Linked DNA regions of Homo sapiens: region 2 is linked to region 1. Evidence: fine-mapped expression QTL. Tissue or cell type: whole blood. Region 1 holds a variant in brackets; the other region holds the start of a gene. All regions are shown on one strand. Distances are between the middles of the regions.

Region 1 (2,680 bases):
ACATATATATATATCTTTCCTAAGGGGGCTGGAATTGGAAAAAAAAAAAAAAGAGGCAGGATTATAGGTGATAGTGTGGACTGGGGGCACATAAACAGTGTAACAGTGACCCCCAGCCTCATGGCTCACCTTCCAAAAGTCAGTATTGATTGAGCAACTAATTAGCTGTGTATTTCCTGTGCTCAGAATCAGAGATTTTCCCTTTGTTGGGTGGCAACTGTAATCTGGTCGAGAGGAAGGCTTTTCAGGGGCTCTCTGTTCCCACAGAACTCCAGAGTGGCCTCATTTCACACTTCTTGGGAACTAGTTTTTCGAGTGACAGATTGATTGGTGTATGGGTGGTTACCAAAAAAGATTCTATTTTATTAGCTGTTTGTCTTGCAGAGTGAAATAGTTTTTTTAAACTTTATCAAAACGTCATCATCTCCAGGGTTTAAAGCGTGCCCTCTGGCTTTGAGGGAAGATCTCAGTCCCATAGCCGTCATGTCCCAGTTCACCTCAAGCCATTGAGCAATGAGCCTGAGACGGGGCAGGTGAGCTCAGGCCTGTGGCCGCCCTAGCCTGGGCCCACTTAAGGGGTGACCCTGAGTGGCAGCTAGCTGAGCACCAAGGTGACAGACAGCTCTAAATTTCATCCCGGTGCCTAAACTGTCTTAAAAAAATACATCAAGGGAAAAGTAAAATCTAGACATTCCTATACATGAGAGACTATGTGTATAGGTAATGTTGCTTTTCTGTTTGAGAAGGAAATAGAAAACATTTCACTTACTCTTTTTTTTAAATTAAAAATGAGGAATATATCAAACAATAAAAAAGATCTTGGTTTCCTATTGTGGCAGTTAAAGAAGAGAGAAAAACAGACTGAAAGTTGTTGAGGGAAGGCAGGGAGCAGAGTCCTGTCCCAGGGGTGCCTCAACTCAGTGTGCCTGGCCTGGGCGGCCCAGCCCTGCCCTTCCAGCCTCAGCGGGTGTAGCCCCTAGTTGTCTACTCTGTCCTTGGCCCCTCCCTTAGCCCCAAGTGTCCTGTCCAGAGTCAAGGCCAATTACTCCTAGTTCTTGAGTCCATTTCTAGTCCCTACTCCCAACCCCTCCGTGGCTGTCACCGCCACCAGGGCCTCCTCCTGTCTTGCCTGCTTTGAGCCCCTTCCCTCCTAATTGGGCTGAAGCCTGTGATCCCCACCAGCAGCAGCTCTGAGCTCATTCTGCCCTTGTCCAGCATCTCCAGATCTCCCTCTACCCCCAGGATC[G/A]ATCCTTCTACCTGGCCTGGCTTGAGGACCCCAGTGACCAGGCCCTGCCCTCCTCAGTCTCGTTTCTGCCCCTCTTTCTCCCACTGATTTGATGTGATGGCCCCGACCTCTAGCTTTCACTGTTCCTGGGACATACCATGCTCTTTCACGCCTCCATGCCTTTGCACATGCTGTACCCTGTGTCTGGAACACCCTGGTGGTCCACCTGACACCCCTCCTCCAAGGCTCAGCTCTAAAGCTTCCAACCCCCTCCCCTCAGTCTCACACCCTGGGGCTTTGTACTGGCAGCGTAGAGCCCCCTGAGCTCCAAGCACAGGGCCCAGTCCCTGACAGGCATTCCAGGAACCTCGGTGGAATCAATAAAGTGATTTCTAGCCAGGCGGGCATGTCCATCACCAGAAGGTTCGATTCCCTTTGTACACACCAGGGGGCACAGCAGGAGCTGTGAGAAACTGCTCCCAATTGTTTGAATTATTGCCTCAATGAGGCTACTTTGTGGTAAAACAAAAGAAAACAAAACGAAAATGCAAGATGGAGACTTGAAATTTAAAAGCTGTGTGAACTCACGTGTGTGTTGTGAGTGCCTATAGCTTACTGGAATCATCATCTTCATCAACATGATTATATAAAAAATGTTTTGGGGTACCCACTGTGTGCCAGGCACTGTGTTCAGAGCATTCCCTGCACAACGTCTTGTTTCATCCCCTAAGCAGCCTGGGGAGGGTAGGTATTATTGATCCCGTACTCAGAGATGAAAACTGAGGCTTGGAGGGGCATAAGTGACTTGCTCAGTCACACAGCAGAGGGTGGCACAGATTCTGTGAGCAAGACTTATCTGCAGCCCCATCCTGGTTAGCATTTTGACCGATGGGGCTCTCTAATACACAGGAGGCACCCATAGGTAAGGGAGGAACACCCCAGGGGTTGGGAAGTCTTGCTAGCCACCACCCTTCCCTCTTACCTGCCTCCTCCTCTGTCCCAGAGGGATTCAAGGTGGATGCTGCCATGATTTGTTCTTAACACTGGAGTGTGAATTCATCCATCAACTGTTGTCCTGGATATCTGAATGGTCAGAGAGCTGGTGGGGATTGGGAGGTATAAACCCAGCAGGAACCAGGTAGAGTTCTGCTGTGGGGCTGAGGGATGATGGGGAACACCCCGGTCAAGCCCATTGTCTCTCCCTGGTGTCCTTCAGCCTTGCGCCCTCCATTTGTTCTCCATACAGAAGCCAGAGTGATCTTTCTAGGTACACACCTGGGTACCCTCCCCGCTGAGAACTCTTTCATGGCCCCCAGGATAAAATCCATGCCCCACATCTGCCTCCTCTCCTGTCGCACTTCTTGCCAATCCTGTCCTTAGAGCTCTCCTCTTTCCTTCTTGGTCCCGTTCTCTCTCCGGGAGGGCCTTTCCCTAGCCTGGAATTCCACGCCTTGC
Region 2 (2,680 bases), 85 kb before region 1:
ATCAATTTTCCTACCTGCTCTATCTCTATTTTGCTCCAGTGATCCCCATCTCAGTCAGGGTGAAAGGCAATGTCCTTGCAAGTACCTAGCAGGCATCCTCCCCTCAAATTCCTTACTGCTCTCCTCTAGCTCACCGGGCTCCAGGCACCTTGCAAGGAGCAAAGAAACGGCTTAAGGGCCTCTTTACTTTCAGGTTCTCTGCCTAGAAGTCCTCTCGATATGTGGAATACCCTGCCATTCACCTTCTGCAAGTCTTCACTCAAATGTCATTTCCTCAGTGACACTCTCACTGAAGTGGCACCACTCTTCCTGCTTTGTCTCCCCGCCTCCTTACATCCCTTATCATCATCTGACACTGAATAGACTTGTTTACTGTTTCTGTCTACCTGCATGTTAGGTCCTCACTGCTGTATCCACAGAATCTAAAAAAATACCTGGCATATCGTAGGCACGTAGTAAACACATGTTGGATGAACAACCAAATCTGTAAAATGAGGCCGTCACGCCGGATGGATCATCCATCCCCTTAAGATGAAACTGTGCTGCGACTGGGCCCAGTCTTCTTGCATTACCATCCTGAGAAGCCCAGCGACCACCTTCAGGGGCATACTCACTTTGCAGGAGCCTGCAGAGGCGGCTTCAGGTTCTCCCTCCTCGTGGACAAGGTCTAACAACTGAAAGCCCGAGTTCCCGGCGGCTTCTGGGTTCCCCGGCGTGTACTCGGACTCCTGGCCGCTCGAGGTGGTCCCCAAGGATCGGCGGCTGGAAAGCACCCGGTAGCGGCCCTCCTGCCGGACCTCCCGAGCCGAGGCGCGGAGATTACGGCGGACACGCTGCTGGCTGTCCCGTGACGGGCGCAGAACTTCCCGCAGGAGAGGCTGGACTGGTTCCTCCTAGGGGGCAACAGGGGACGGAGGCCAGCGTAAGCAGGAGTTCGCGAGCGGGTCAGGGATCGGGTTTCGTACCGGCTGCACCCGAAGATGCCCTCCACACCAGCTGCACCACGCCCAATACCTGGGAGCACACAGTGGCCACCAAGTGGAAGACATTATTCTCCGCCGCTCTCTCCAAACCCTCCGACGTCTTCTGTGCCGCTGACTCGACCGCGTCGCTCCGGAGGCGTTTACAAGCGAGCACAAGAGCCTCCGCCGGCTCCGCACTGCGCTTCCGCTTCACCCGGAGTACAGCGGTCCTGGCGGCCTCCATAGTGGCTGCCGCTGAGCACTGTGGGAGCTCGCGGGGTGTGATGGGATAGCTTTCCAGTTCTGCTTTAGGACCCGCCCCCCAGCACGCTCCTCGACGCTGCGAGGTCCCGCCCCGCGTGCTGGCCGCGGTAAAAGTGGTAGCAGCGGAGGCGAGCGGAGGGTTTCCCGCGGCGGGTGAGGCGCTGGGTATGCTGGGAAGGTGGGGTCGCTTTGGGGTTCTGTGTGCAGCGAGCATGGTGTCCTTGGCACCAGGGTTTCGGCAGAGGAGCCTAGCGTGGGCCTACTTGGACTCCTCCGCGTGGGGCAGCTCGGGACACCCGGGCCTGCAGGAGAGCGGGGTTCTAGGCTGGCCCCGGCTCTGCAGTGCAGCCGGGTGCCTGCCACTCGCGGGGCTCTGTCGCAGTACTCGTGCCTGGCGCCTCCCCTCAGCCACAGAGACCGCAGTAGCTCCAACCATCGCACCCCTAACTGGGCCACGAGTTCTCTGATTGCCAGACCTGTTGTCTTTGCCACTCACTGTTCTGAGTAATTGGAGAGTCGTGTATTCACTACACGCCAACCAGAGTGGTCCTGTAAAAGCGTAAGCCTAGTGTAGATACGCTTCTGCTTAAAACTCTTGAGTGGCTCCCAGTGCTTTTAGAACAAAATCCAAACGCCTTTCCGAAGTCGACAAGGCCCAGCTTGATTGAGCAGAAGATGTGATAGGAGATGAGGAGCGGGGGGCTTCTGCAAAAGTGCTTCGGTCGCTCAGGCTTTTGGCACATTTTGCTTATGCAACCTAGTTCTTTCTACCTTAGGGCCTTTTCTTGGGAAAGTTGGGGTAAGGATTCCTGACCTGTAAAAACTCTTCCCCAACTTTTATCCCGGTCTGTCTTGTAGATCTCAAATGCTAGTTTCCTCAGAGTCCTTCTGTAACCTTGGTTTTCTCTTTCTACAACGCTCTGTGTATTTCTTGCATTCATGTAGTCTGTAATTTGTATTACTCTCTCATTAGAGTCTAAGCTCTTGGAGGGCAAGGGTCTTCTCTAGCTTGTGGTGGTGGCTCCAGTCCCTAATATAGTGCCTGGCACATAGAAGGTATTTAATAAATTTTGTTATTTTATTTTTTCGAGACAGAGTCTCACTCTGCTGCCTAGGCTGAGTGCAGTGGTGTGATCGAGGCGCACTGCAGCCTTGACCTCCTGGGCTCAAGCGATCCTCACCTCGGCCTACCGAGTAGCTGGGACTACAGGCACGCGCCACTACACTCGGGTAATTTTTAATTTTAATATATGTATATTTATATATATATATATATATATATATTTTTTTTTTTAAGACAGGGTCTCACTCTGTCACCCAGGCTGGAGTTCAGTGGCGCCATCTCTGCTCACTGCAACCTCTGCCTCCCGGGCTCAAGTGATTCCCCTACCTCAGCCTCCCGAGTAGCTGGGAGTAACTGGGACTACAGGCACAGGCCACCGCGCCCGGCTAAT

Evidence for each region. PIP is the estimated chance that this variant, and not a neighbour inherited with it, causes the effect.
Region 2: PRMT7 starts here. The variant in region 1 is fine-mapped to the expression of PRMT7 in whole blood (TOPMed, PIP above 0.99).

The regions. Positions count from the first base shown.
Region 1 is chr16:68,395,054-68,397,733 of GRCh38, forward strand. All of the region lies in intron 1 of SMPD3 (sphingomyelin phosphodiesterase 3), which reads right to left. Among named protein-coding and RNA genes, the nearest start is that of SMPD3, 52 kb to the right of the region's middle. The variant G/A (reference allele first, on the strand shown) is at 1,247.
Region 2 is chr16:68,309,721-68,312,400 of GRCh38, forward strand. It overlaps PRMT7 (protein arginine methyltransferase 7), which reads left to right and starts at 1,299. Exons shown (of 19, transcript NM_019023.5): 1 at 1,299-1,379; 2 at 2,322-2,456. SLC7A6OS (solute carrier family 7 member 6 opposite strand) reads right to left here and starts at 1,226. Exons shown (of 5, transcript NM_032178.3): 1 at 1,015-1,226; 2 at 615-893. The coding sequence starts at 1,206. RefSeq lists an enhancer at 231-1,195.